Linked DNA regions of Homo sapiens. The protein of the gene in region 1 purifies or fractionates together with the protein of each later gene. This does not show direct contact. Each region holds a gene or a part of one and is shown on either strand. Other genes may lie near its edges.

Region 1 (6,674 bases):
TCTGTCAGGTAATATTGCAACACACTGACCAAAGTAGATTTAGATGACTTGTTATTTGCTTTATGTTTTATATTCATAGTAAAAGACATAGAAAAGTGCCAGTGCATTTATTCCAGGTATTTCCATTTTAGAAAAAGAGGAAGTTTATTTAATCATGAACTAAAAAGGACAAGCCAGCTGTACTATTTTTACCTGAAATGAATAGGCTATGTAGTCACAGTGCTACAGCAAACGACTTTAGCTCAGGTCTGCAAGCAGTAGATGACAGCACATCACTTTCTTTTAATTCTTTATGTAGTCATGCAATTCCCACTGGAATATGTACGCAGATAGAGCCATAATCTCAGATTTAATGCCATGGAGGGCATTATCAGGTATTTAATTTATAAGTAATAAGAAATTCTGCAAATAAAGATATTTTTGGCATTCTTTAATTGCAGGGTAACTGAAATGGCTAAAAAAAAAAAACCCATAAAAGGTATTTAGTATTTCATCTTATTATTACTTCTACAAAATTTCTGTTTTTGTATGATAATGTTTATTTGAAATTATGTATCACAGATAAGACCAGAGGTAGAAAACAGCACGCCAAATAACAATCCTCAAACAAAACAGAACAAAACAAACAAACAAACAAGGAAACAAGACCACACATACTTACAAACTCTCCTGAACCAAGTATGTTCAAGAATTAATAAGTTGCACCCCTTACCCCCATCCACTCATGAGGCTCTGGAAAAAGTCGTGCCTTTTAGCTTTTTACAGTCTAAGTATGCTCTCGGCATCTAATGAGCTTTTTAAAAGCCAGCTTAAAGTCTTCATTAAAACTCGTATAGAGCAGAGGGTTGATCAGAGAATTCACATAACCGAGCCACGTCAGAAAGTCGGCCACTTCCGAGGACACGGTGTAGATGCTCAGACCCACAATCAACTCTTTGATGAAAAATGGCAGCCAGGATAAAATGAATGCACCCAGAATCAGCCCCAGGATGCGTGCTGCCTTCCGTTCCCTGGTGCTAGAGATCTGCTGACGTTCTCCTGGGTGATCTAGATCATTGTCGAAGGGGGGGATCCTGATGGAGGCATGGAACTTTTCAAACTCTGTGGTAGGGTCTGAGGTGGAGAAGTCAGACACACAGAAAGTCTGTGTAAGTTTACAACTTGCAAAAGAATTCTGGCTATCTGTGCTTCTGTTGCTTAAGTGCCGACTTGATCCCCTTTTCTGGTAAAGGCTCTTGGCCGCGTGGTAAATCCGGTAATAGAGAATCAGTATCAAAGTCAAGGGGATATAAAACGCACCCAGCGTGGAGTAAATGGTGTAGATAACATGGTCGTGCTGGATGGTGCACTGACTAGGGGGAGGGCTTAGGCGGCGGTGGCTTCTCCAGAACAGAGGGGGCATGGAGATGAAAATGGAGATGGTCCAGACGGTAAGGATCATCAGCGCGGCCCTCTTGGCCGTCCTCTTCCTGGCGTATTCAATAGCATTGGTGATGGCCCAGTACCTGTCCAGGGCAATGACACAGAGGTGGAGGATGGAGCAGGTGCAGCAGGTCATGTCCACACTCAGCCACACCTCACAGAGGAAGTACCCAAGCTTCCAGCGATCCATGACAATGTAGATGATGCTCAGGGGCATGACGAGCACTGCCACCAGGAGGTCCGTCACGGCCAGAGAACAGATTAGGTAGTTGGCAGGCTGGTGGAGCTTCTTGGTGGTGCCAATAGCCATGATCACAGCCAAGTTCAGCAACGTGGTGAGGGTGGTGATGACCACCAGAGTCATGCAAATGAGCATCTTCTCAGTGATGGTCTTGGGTCTTATAGCCATGCTGGCCTCTGTGGTACAGTTTGTGATGTTCATGTTTCCCTTGTTTCAGTCTACACTGTGGAGAAGCTGTTGGTTATTTTCCTTTGGCTGAAAACTATGTAGCCTCGAAGGTTTCTCACTTGTAAGGAGGCTATAATTTGTTCAGCTATGTGGTCTCTTGTGTTCCATTTTCTGTTGGTAAAGGGAAGGGCCACAGCATTTCTTCTGAGTGAAGGTTCCTGGAAAATATTATGCTATTGGTTAATGAATGAGAAAGCCACACTTTTCCTGGAAAACATGAAAATAGTTTGATATTTATAAATTCTTTATAAATTTTAATTTTCTCTTTCCTGTGGAACTTGAGCTCATCGTTACATTGTTCCTCAAAGGATACTTTTTTTACTTCAGGGAAGTTTTCAAACTGTTTTTTTTTAAATTATACTTTAAGTTCTGGGATACATGTGCAGAACTTGCAGGTTTGCTACATAGGTATACATGTGCCATGGTGGTTTGCTGCACCCAACAACCAATCATCTACATTAGGTACTTCTCCTAATGCCATCCCTCCCCTAGCCCTCCACCCCCCAACAGGCCCTGGTGTGTCATGTTCCCGGCCCTGTGCCCATGTGTTCTCATTGTTCAACTCCCACTCGTGAGTGAGAGCATGTGGTGTTTGGTTTTCTGTTCCTGTGTTAGTTTGTTGAGAATATGGTTTCCAACTCATCCATGTCCCTGCAAAGGACATGAACTCATCCTTTTTTATGGCTGCATAGTATTCCATGATGTATATGTGCCACATTTTCTTTATCCAGTCTATCACTGATGGGCATTTGGGTTGGTTCCAAGTCTTTGCTATTGTGAATAGTGCTGCAATAAACATACATGTCCATGTGTCTTTAGAGTAGAATAATTTAAAATCCTTTGGGTATATACCCAGTAATAGGATTGCTGAGTCAAATGTTATTTCTGGTTCTGGAACCTTGAGGAATCGCCATACTGTCTTCCACAATGGTTGATCTAATTTACACTCCCACCAACAGTGTAAAAGCATTCCTATTTCTTCACATCCTTTCCAGCATCTGTTGCTTCCTGCCTTATTATTATTATTATTATTATTATTATTATTATTATTATACTTTAAGTTCTAGGGTACAGGTGCACAACATGCAGGTTTGTTACATATGTATACATGTGCCGTGTTGGTTTGCTGCATCCTTTAACTCGTCATTTACATTAGGTATTTCTCCTAATGCTATCACTCCCCCGTCCCCCGACCCCACGACAGGCCCGGGTGTGTGGTGTTCCCTGCCCTGTGTCCAGGTGTTCTCATTGTTCAATTCCCACCTATGAGTGAGAACATGTGGTGTCTGGTTTTCTGTCCTTGCGATAGTTTGCTCAGAATGATGGCTTTTTAATGATCACCATTCTAACTGGCGTGAAATGGTATCTCATTGTGGTTTTGATTTGCATTTCTCTAATGACAGTGATGATGAGCTTTTTTTCATATGTTTGTTGGTTGCATAAATGTTTTCTTTTGAGAAGTGGCTGTTCATATCCTTCGCCCACTTTTTGATGGGGTTGTTTGTTTTTTTCCTATAAATTTGTTCAAATCGTTTTTGACAAAAACATCACAAAATTTTAAATGTACTTTGCCACCCCAATTAATTTCTTATTTATATTTATTCTTTTATACATGTTTATATATAAAAAGGCTTTTTTTTACATTTGAAAATATATATTCATATTATGTAACATTAAACATTCTGGGGCCGTTAAAGAAAAAATTATATTGCTTATAATAAGCAGCTTTCAAATCAGATTTTAAACTTTCACAGTAAATATGCTGGCGTGGTGGCTCACACCTGTAATCCCAGCACTTTGGAAAGTTAACTGCAATAATCAGAGCTAAAAATGGATACATCCTATGAGGAGTTGATGGAGGACCTTTTTGGGGATTTGTAACTTTAAATTTCCACTTTATTGTGACATAAAAAATATCATGAGTCCAAGGCCATATTTAAATTGTTTTTCATAAAAATTACAAATAGGAGAGAATTACTCTAAACCAAACTGGTTAGTGTACGCTGCTCCTCATTTCCAGGGATACTCTAGAGCCTCTGCTTTATACCATCCCAGTGAAGGTCAGAGCACCAGGGAGATGAGGTTATAGGGATGATAGATGTTAAGGCCGACTTTGGCATATTATTCTTCTGGGGCTTTGTCCTTTGCAGCAGATGAAGAGGGACAAGAATCTCTTTCTCATCCAGGAAGAGTTTCCAAAGCACCTAAGCATTATCAAGAAGGAGGAGTCAGCTGGCACCTGCTCATCTTAAAAATTATCTTAAAGAGGGTTTTATATTTTGGATCTGGTTCCTCCATTAGAAAACTGACATTTCACTTCATAAGTCCTGATTTACTTTAACCTAAAAAGTGTGCCTGAGTCAGCGGTTTTGGAGAGAAAGCTTGGAGTGGTGACTACCCACATGGACTCTGAATGCTGACCCTGCCACTTGTCAGCTGCAGTGTAATCCTAAGCATGTTCTTTAACGTTAGCCTGCTTCAATTTCCTCCTCTTTAAATCAGGAATAATGACATCTTTCTCTAAAGTAAGTAGTGTGAAGATCAAATGTGTTAATACACGTAGAAGCTGAGAACAACGCCTAATACATAGTAAGTACTATGTAAGTGTTTGCGGTCATTTGTTATACTAATTTTCCCAGTGATTTTTGCATTGGGTAATGGAGACAGATTTCATCCCACAAACTCTGATGTGTAATAAAAGCCTATTAAAAATAAGTCAACTTAATTTTGTTCTTTCTTTTTTTTCTTTCCAACTTTTATTTTAGGTTTTGAGGGTACAAGTGCAGATTTGTTTCATGGGTAAACTGTGTGTTGCAGGGTTTGGTGTACAGCTTATTTCACCACCTAGGTAATAAGCATAGTACCCAAAAGGTAGTTTTTCAAATCTCACCCTCCACTCACCCTCTACCCTCATGTAGGCTCTGGTATCTATTGCTCCCTTCTTTGTGTTCATGTGTTATTCAATATTTAGCTCCCGGTTATAAGTGAGAACATGTGTCAACCTAATTGCTGCTTCTAAGCTTCTCACTTCTCATGCTTGAGACTTTCTCTAACCCCAACCACACCCCCAAGTCTCTGGAGGATTATTTAGGGCCAAGGCATTGAGGTTTGGTTGGGGAGAGGGGTTTCAGATGTTGCATGCACAGAGAAAGTCCCTGGTAAGATATTTACTGTCCCCCACTCCTACAGTTCTTTCAGATCCCCAGACTGCTTCCGTAACACGCTTAGGAAATGTCCTAAGGTTGGGAACCCCATGCCTAGCCCCTAAGTCCCTAGCCACACCATGCATGTATCCCTTTTTAAAATATTATAGACTCTTCAAGGCACTTCCAGAACTTCTGGCCCAAGTCTTAGACCCCCAGGATCTTTTCTGTTCCTCCATTTTGCGCGGGAAAGGTATGTAGACCATTGGAGAAATTCCTTTCTTCCTTCATTTTTTTTTCTAACCCTTTCAGCCACCTATTAAAAGCTCTCTTTTCCTTTTTTACTTATTTACAAATCTTTTATTAATAAATCTCCTATGGGCTTGGCTTTTGAGAACATAAATAGGGATTACTGTCTGATACTTCCGCTTTCTGAAATATCTGTGAGGTAAGGAAGCATAAACCAGGCCACATGCTTGACTGAAGGAAAGGGAAAAAATAGAAAATAGCATCCAGCCATACATGTAACATTTCTTGTTGACATATTCCCCTTTCCTAGCATTCTTAGAGTTATCTGAAATATGGGACAAATATCCTTACCACAAAGTTTTGCTAAGACTTTGAATTACCAGAAAATATTATATAACGTCTCAACCATTAAAAGTTTAACATGCTGGTGGACCTGGAGCATTCCTGATCAACTCATTTACGTTGCATGTAACCACCATCATTTAGAGAATATTTTCCTGAACTGCTTTGAAGGAACCCAGGGTATACTTGCCTTTCTCTATTTACTTCCCAGCATTTTCCCAGTCAACCTGTGTTAAGTACTGACTTCTGTCCATTCCTAGACACTTCCAGATACCACTTCCCTTTGATAAGTCATTCCCTCCTGCTGCAAGGTTTCTGTTTTGCACATGGCCTCTAAACTGATCCAGGAAAACTGCCCTCAACTCTGTCAGCTTAGCCACCCTCTCTCCTAGCAGCATTTCCTGGCTCCACATGATGTTCTGGGCTGCAATTGCTTTACCTCTTGCCTACCAAAAATTCAGAGGTCACATAGTAGCTATTGCAAATGGAGTTGAAGCTGTCTAAAGTCAATGTATTAAAAGTTTAAGCATCTTAGACCAATAACTACTTTAAAGAAACCACAGAGAATCAAGAAACATGTTAAACTACCTTTTGATTATGCAATCATTGGAATCCAAACTGTAAAAAAATTCACGGGTTAAATCACCCAGTTTCTTAAATAAATTGCAGACAAGGAGGGCGATAAGAAGTGTGGCGTATAGGCCGGCGAGCGCCGCCCGGGAGGCAGCGGCTGGAGGAGCGGACGGGCCCCGCGGGGCCCGAGGGCAAGGAGCAGCCGCCTGCCTTGGCCTCCCAAAGTGCCGAGATTGCAGCCTCTGCCCGGCCGCCACCCCGTCTGGGAAGTGAGGAGTGTCTCTGCCTGGCCGCCCATCGTCTGGGATGTGAGGAGCCCCTCTGCCTGGCTGCCCAGTCTGGAAAGTGAGGAGCGTCTCCGCCCGGCCGCCATCCCATCTAGGAAGTGAGGAGCGCCTCTTCCCAGCCGCCATCACATCTAGGAAGTGAGGAGCGTCTCTGCCCGGCCGCCCATCGTCTGAGATGTGGGGAGCGCC
Region 2 (7,964 bases), on another chromosome or scaffold:
CCCTATTCTAGTATGTCCTCCTCTTAGCTACTTACAGGCATCACTGTAAGTCCAAATAAGGTCATATTCTCAGGTCCTGAGGCTTAGAGACAGCCCCGATGGCCACGGTGCCACTGTGTGGATGAATCTCTCGCACAACCCCGAGGAGAAAAAGACAGAGGCCCGCCTGATGCTCTTCCTCTCCCCCTTCCCTTCACTGTCACAGTAGGTTCCCTGGGTAGGGCAGGTGGAGCAGGATCCACAGTGGCCCAGGCTGGGCTGTCGGAGCCTGGCTGGGTGAGGAGGGTGAGGGTATGTGGCTGAGGCTCAGAGCTGTTTGCAGGTGCCTGGCTGGGTGAGGAGGGTGCCGGTGTGCGTGGCTGAGGCTCAGAGCTGGATGTCAGAGCCTGAGAAGAAAGAGGGCGGCCCCAGGTGTGGTCCAGCAGAGGGTATCAGAGCCCAGGCAGGAGAAGAAGGTGTCCACCATGAGAGCCTCCCAGGCCAAGCCTGGGAGTGATGACATATTTGCATAGCTTCCAAATACCTCCTACAAAATGCTTGTGTTTTTGTTTTGTTTTGTTTTTCATTTTGTTTTTTTTTTTTTGAGACGGAGTCTCGCTCTGTCGCCCAGGCTGGAGTGCAGTGGCGCAGGGTCGGCTCACTGCAAACTCCGCCTCCTGGGTTCACGCCATTCTCCTGCCTCAGCCTCCCGAGTAGCTGGGACTACAGGCAACCGCCACCACACCTGGCTAATTTTTGTATTTTTAGTAGAGACGGTTTCACCGTGTTAGCCAGGATGGTCTCGATCTACTGACCTCGTGATCCGCCCTCCTCAGCCTCCCAAAGTGCTGGGATTACAGGCGTGAGCCACTGCACCCGGCCAAAATGCTTGTTAATTACGAAGGAAAAAAGAACTTCCCAGTGGAGATGTTGGCAGATACCACCTTAATCAAGAGCTCAAAGTGAACATCATCAGTAACGTGACAACGTGACCACTGTGAGCCACTGACTGGATGGAATGAACAGGCCACGGTGTCACCTCTGCGACTTTCCTGTCCGAGACGTGCAGTGGGAATCTAATCACGAGGACACAGCAGACGAAACCAAATGGAGGGACTTTCTCCAAAGTAATTGGCCCATGACCTTCAGAGGTGTCAGGGTCATGACAGCCAAAGCAAGGCCAAGGAATGTTCTGGACTGAAGGGGAATAAAGAGGTATGTGAGAATTCAGTGCAAAGTGACTCTAGGCTGGATCCTTCCACGCTGGGGCCCTGATGCAATCAACTGGCAAAGCGTGTTTGACAGGCTGAGGGGTAAACACGGCAACAGGCCTGTGTCCTCTCCTGACTCGGGCCATGTGTGGCTGTGTTGGAGAATGTCCTCGTTTGTGGAAAATACACTCTACAAGGGTGGGGGGCGACAGAGCATCATGAAGGCAACTTACTCTCAAATCCTTCACGAGAAGTTTTTTTGTGCTGAGCTTGCAACTTTTATACAAGTTTGGGATTGTTTCAAAAAATGTTAAAGAATGTATGTGGTATTACATAAAGTTTATATATATTATTAAACTTATATAAACCTTATATAATACCACACATATTCTTTAAAATTTTATATAAATAAATTTATATAAAATTTAAAATAAATGAAAGTTGGCTGGGTGTGGTGGCTCACCGCCTGTAATTCCAGCACTTTGGGAGGCGGAGGTGGGTGGATCATTTGAGATCAGGAGTTCAAGACCATCCTGGCCAACACGCGGAAACCCCGTCTATACTAAAAATACAAAAATTAGCCAGGCATGCTATAATCCCAGCTACTTGGGAGGCTGAGGCAGGAGAATCGCTTGAACCCAGGAGGTGGAGGTTGCAGTGAGCCGAGATCGCCCTGCTGCATTCCAACCTGGGCAACACAGTGAGACTCTGTCTCAAAAAAACAAAAATTTAAAGAATATATGTAGTATTATATGAAGTTTAATATATATTATTAAACTTACATAAAACTATATGTGGCATTATATATAGTCTATATATTTATATTATATATTGTTTATATAACACCACATATATTCTTTAAAATTTTATATAAAGTTTATATAAAGTTTAAAATAAGTGAAAGTTAACTATATTGTTTAGGGACACATGCATAGGTAGTAAAACTAAAGAAATTTATATATCATCTTTAAAATTTTATATAAATATAAAGTTTATATAAAGTTTAAAATAAGTGAAAGTTAACTATATTGTTTAGGGACGCATGCATAGGTAGTAAAACTAAAGAAAAAGTCAGCCATGGTCAAGAAGAGCGGGTCTGTGAGTGGCATGGGGGAGAGACTTTGGGGTGCTGATGAGGTTCTATTTCTTAACTTGGGTAGTGGCTACTGATGTTCGATTTATAACCAATCTCTAAGTCGCACATGCGCATTTATGCACCATCGTTATGCAGAGAATATCAGTCCATTTCTTTTCAACTGTGGGCCCTACAGCAGGCCTGCTTACTACCTCAGTACCTGGCTTATGCAGATAAAAGGAGTATTCCTTTAAGAAAAACAAAATACTAGAGGCAAATCAGCTTCCAAAACTAGGTTATACATACTAAAACTAAATGACTTTGGGGCTATGGACCATGCTCTCCTTTTTAGCTAGGCAGACACTCACGAGTCTTAACTGTTCACCAGACAGGCTGGCCCTTGATTTTTGTTTAATGTTTTTGTAAATGTGTTATAATAATACTTTATTATAACATCTGCTGCAAAGTCAGGGGCGGGTCCCTCAACAGAGGCTGTGCCAGCGCCGGGGTTCCCTGAAACGAACCAGGGACTAGAACTATTAACAAAGTCATTTTTCTGGCACAGCTTTCCGGGAAAGGCGTTTCATATGGGACGGAGTTCTGCCTGGGGGGCGGGGGTCAAACCCTTCCAGCTCAGCCCCAGGGTCAAACGCATCCGCCCCCACACCCACCTCTGGCTGGCCTGGGTCCCAGGTTCTCGGGCTCCGGAGGCACAGACACCCCGGGCTGCTCAGGCAGGCGGCGGTCCTTGGCGATTGCCCTCCGCGGCGCCGGCGGCGTGGTTTGGGGCGGGCAGCTCCATGGCAACGGAAGACTCCATCGTGGCCGGAGGGGGAGCCTCGCCCGTTCTGCTCCCCGGCTGGAGCGGGTGGTTTGGTCCGACCCACCACCGACCGCGCGGGCCGGGGCCGGGGCAAGGAGGTCGCGGGCCCCGAGGCGCGGCTGAAGGGCCAGGCCACAGGCCGCGGGGCGGGGACGTCTCCGGGGTCCCAGACAGCCAGGCCTGGCCCAGGGCCAAGGCTTGGAGGTGACAGACAGACTTGGGGGGCCTGGAGGAGCTCAGCACCGGCGCGTTGGCCCAGAGGACCGGGGCGGGTGCATGATGGTTTGGAGTCGTTTGTCAACCTAAAAAACTAGGAGGTTTCCCGTGAAAATGGGGATTTTCCTCTTCTCTTGCAAATGGAAGATCGGGCTGGGCGCGGTGGCTCACACCTGTCATCCCAACAATTTAGGAGGCCGAGGTGGACGGATCACTTGAGGTCAGGAGTTCGAGACCAGCTTCGCCAACATGGTGAAACCCCGTCTCTTCTAAATATACAAAAATTAGCAGGGCATGGTGGCAGCTGCCTGTAATCCCAGCTACTCAGGAGGCTGAGGCAGGAGAATCGCTTGAATCCAGGAGGAGGAGGTTGCAGTGAGCCAAGATCGTACCACTGCACTCCAGCCTGGATGACAGAGTGAGACTCCGGCTCAAAAAAAAAAAAAAAAAAAAAAAGACTTCTGAATGTTATGTTCCAGCAAAGGCTCCAACTGAAAAATTGTAAAAGTAAATAGCAAAGTCAGTGAGCTATGATGGTGCCATCACACTCTGGCCTGAGCGAAATCAAGACCCTGTTTCAAAATTAAAAACAGCAAAAACCCGGTTGGGCACAGTGGCTCATGCCTGTAATCCCAGCACTTTGGGAGGCTGAGTTGGGCAGATCACTTGAGGTCAGGAGTTCGAGACTATCCTGGTCAACATGGTGAAACCCTGTCTCTACTAAAAATACAAAAATTAGCCGGGTGTGGTGGCGCACACCTGCAGTCCCAGCTACCCCAGAGGCTGAGGCAGGAGAATCGTTTGAACCCGGGAGGTGGAGGTTGCAGCGAGCCAAGATTGCGCCACTGCACTCCAGCCTGAACGACAGAGCGAGACTCTGTCTCAAGACAAACAAACAAACAAAAAACAAAACGGAAGATGGGCCCAACATGCCAAGCCGGTTCCGACGTTCCCCATTGCCTTTCCCACAGTCCCCATCCCCCGCTGCCCAGCCCATCTCACTGTGCATCCTGTTACACCGGAGCCTCTTCTCGCACCGCTGGTCCGTGGGGGCCGTTTGCAATGGAGACATGGGAGTGTGAGGAAAGGGAGTGGTCTCTCACCGGGCCACTCTATGCCAAGAACTGGGCTCACGAGTGAATTGGACGCGTCCCCTACCCTGGCAGTCTTTCAGCCCGCCATGTGTAGGGCTTGCAGGGTGGCCGGCTCCTGATGCCACAGTGAGGCCTGGGAGGTCCTTTGGTTTTATCCTGGCCCATAACCTGATCCATCAGAGGCAAGACACCTTGCAGAATGCCCAGCACCCGTGAGAATGGCTGTGGAAAGTAGCTGGGTGACACCACAGCACCTCTGCACTCACCCACCTTCCGCAGTGCCAGATCGCTTTCCTCCTCAGAATCTGAGGAATAGAACCAAGCCACCATTACCAGCCCAGGTTCGCTTTTATAAGAGAGATTATACTTCTTCCCGACTCCACGGAAATGATAGGGCTTCTTCCTTATCAACTTTGCCTCCCTGGACCTTTCCCAATGAACTGTTAATATACTTTCTAGGAAAGGGCCGGGCACAGTGGCTCACGCCTATAATCCCAGCACTTTGGGAGGCCAAGGCAGGTGGATCACCTGAGGTCAGGAGTTCGAGACCCGCCTGGCCAACATGGTGAAACCCCTGTCTACTAAAATACAAAAACTAGCTGGGCGTGGTGGCGCATGCCTGTAATCCCAGCTACTCGAGAGGCTGACACAGGAGAATCACTTGAACCTAGGAAGCAGAGTTTGCAGTGAGCCAAGATCACACTACTGCACTCCAGCCTGGGCAACAGAGCGAGACTCCAACTCTCTCTCTCTCTCTCTCTCTCGTTCTCTCTCTCTCTCTCTCTATATATATATATATACTGTCTAGGAAAGAAGGAAAGGACAGTGACAGCCTGAGAACAGCCCCGTGTCCATGGAACTGGTTGGTTAAGGAAGCTGTGGAACAGCTACACGATGGAGGTCAGCTGTAAAGAAGGTATAAGGACCATTTATTTCTATGTTCTGCTGTGGAGTGACTCCAGAACATATTGTTAAGTAAAAAAAATTGAGCCAGGCATGGTGGCTTGAGCCTGTAGTCCCAGCTACTTGGGAAGCTGCAGGATGGATTGCTCAAGCCCAGGAGTTTGAGGCTACAGTGAGCTATGATTGTACCACTGTACTCCAGCCCTGGCAACATAGTGAACCCCATCTCAAAAAAGAAAAAAAAAATCCAGCCAGGTGCAGCGGCTCACGCTTCTAATCCCAGCACTTTGGGGGGCAAGGTGGGAGGATCGCTTGAGTCCAGGAGTTTGAGACCAGCCTGGGCAACATGGTGAAACTCTGACTCTAAAAAAATACAAAAAAAATTAGCCGGCCATGGCGGTGCACACCTGTAGCCCCAGCTACTCGGGAGGCTGAGGTGGGAGGACCTCTTGAGCCTGGGAGATTGATGCTGCCCTGAGCTGTGACTGTGTCACTGCACTCCAGCTTGGGTGACAAGTGAGATCCTGTCTCAAAAAAAAAAAAAAATCAAGATGCAGAAAAGTGTGTATAGTATTTATGTAAGAAGGAGCAGTGGCAATAAGAATATATATATATTTTTACATTAAAAAGGTTACTATCTGGGGCAGAAGGACACAGGAATAGAAAGTAGATCTCTTTAAATGTGCTTACATTCAGTTATAGAACTGTGTAATTAGAAAACCAAAAATAAATCAAAATAGAAAAGCATCTAAAACTTGGAGACAGAATGAAACAAATGAACCTAATTGTATGGCATGTGGGGGGGTTAGCCATACAAAAAAGGATAATTTTGAGTGACTTTTTATTTTTATTTTTAGACAGAGTCTCGCTGTGTCACCCAGGCTGGAGTGCAATGGAGTGATCTTGGCTCACTGCAACTTCCACCTCCTGGATCCAAGCAATTCTCCTGCCTCAGCCTCCCAAGTAGCTGAGATTACAGGCATGAGCCTCAATGCCTGGCTAGTTTTTTGTATTTTTAGTAGAGATGGGGTTTCACCATGTTGGCCAGGCTGGTCTCGAACTCCTGAGCTCAAGTGATCTGCCCGCCTTGGCCTCAGAAAGTAACTTTTTCAAAGAGACAATGTCTGGCTCTGTTCCCCAGACTGGAGTGCGGCGACTCCATCATGGCTCCCCGCAGCCTCCACCTCCTGCGCTCAAGAGAGCCTCCCACCTCAGCCTCCCAAGCAGCGGGGACTACATGTGTATACCACCATGCCCAGCTAATTCATTTCTATTTTATTTTATTATTATTATTTTTTGAGACAGAGTCTCGCTCTGTCGCCCAGGCTGGAGTGCAGTGGCGCAATGTCAGCTTACTGCAAGCTCCACCTCCCAGGTTCATGCCATTCTCCTGCCTCAGCCTCCCGTGTAGCTGGTCATTTTTATTTTTATTTTTGCAGAGATGAGGTCTCACTATCTTTTCCAGGCTGGTGTAGAACTCCTGGCCTCAAGAAATCCTTGAGTTGCAGTGAGCTGAGATGTGCAACTGCACTTCAGCCTGGGCGACAGAACAAGACTCCATCTCAAAAAAAAAAAAAAAAGAAAAAGAAAAAACAAATAAGTAATACAGGGAAGGTGGTTAAGTTTTGTGTATATTTTACCACATTAAAAAGTTTTAATCAGGCCATGCGCAGTGGCTCACACCTGTAATCCCAGCACTTTGCAGGGCCAAGGTGGATGGATCACTTGAGGTCAGGAGATCGAGACCAACCTGACCAACATGGTAAAACCCCGTCTCTACTAAAAATACAAAAATTAGCTGGGCGTGGTGGTGGGCACCTGTAATCCCAGCTACTCGGGAGGCTGAGGCAGGAAAATCACTTGAACCCGGGAGGCGGAGGTTGCAGTGAGCCTAGATTGTACCACTGTACTCTAGCCTGGGCAACAGTGCAAAAACTCTGTCCAAAAAAAAAATTAAATCAAATAAAATGTAAAATTGCATTCCTCAGTGGCAGTAGCCACATTGCAGGTGCTGAGTAGTCCTCTGTGGCCGGTGGCTACCCCAGTGGACAGCACAGACATGAAACAAGGACCCTCATTCCTGGGATTGTGCTGGACTACAAACGGTCACCAGTCCCGGTGCGAGGAGCACACAGACCATTGTTTCTTCCTGCCATTTCCCTTGAAAAGAAACCATGGCTTCTTGGAAAAATGACGGATTTCAGACATGAGGCAGAAAACATACAAGATGACCCCAGAACATCTCATCATAACAGCAAGCAGGAAAATTAACACAGATTCTAGTTTGTCTCGGAGGATCCATTTGCCAGTTTGAAGGGGCTCTCACTGGCGAAAGTAAGCATCAACTGAGTATCAAAAGGAAAAGTAAATTGCAGTGGATTGAAGCACTTCAAATATATTAGTGTCCACGAGTTCATTCAGCCTGGGCGACATAGTGAGACCCCGGCTCTATAAAAAATAATTTAAAAAAATTATCTGGAGCCGGGTGAAGTGGCTCACGCCGGTAATCCCAGCACTTTGGGAGGTTGGGGCGGGCAGATGACAAGGTTGGGAGTTCCAGACCAGCCTGGCTGACATGGTGAAACCCCATCTCTACTAAAAATACAAAAATTAGCCAGGCATGGTGACAGGTGCCTGTAGTCCCAGGGACCCAGGAGGCTGAG

Evidence for each region. The genes of interacting proteins can lie anywhere in the genome.
Region 2: the proteins of HTR1E (region 1) and CFAP74 purify together in Homo sapiens (affinity purification with mass spectrometry; 2 studies listed by BioGRID and IntAct, with this or other methods). This does not show direct contact.

The regions. Positions count from the first base shown.
Region 1 is NC_000006.12:87,010,525-87,017,198, reverse strand, and holds the end of HTR1E (5-hydroxytryptamine receptor 1E), read right to left. Parts: intron 2,050-6,674; 5' UTR 1,865-2,049; coding exon 767-1,864; 3' UTR 520-766; downstream 1-519. UniProt on the Homo sapiens protein: G-protein coupled receptor for 5-hydroxytryptamine (serotonin). Also functions as a receptor for various alkaloids and psychoactive substances.
Region 2 is NC_000001.11:2,000,765-2,008,728, forward strand, and holds the start of CFAP74 (cilia- and flagella-associated protein 74), read right to left. Parts: upstream 3,023-7,964; 5' UTR 2,937-3,022; intron 1-2,936. UniProt on the Homo sapiens protein: As part of the central apparatus of the cilium axoneme may play a role in cilium movement. May play an important role in sperm architecture and function.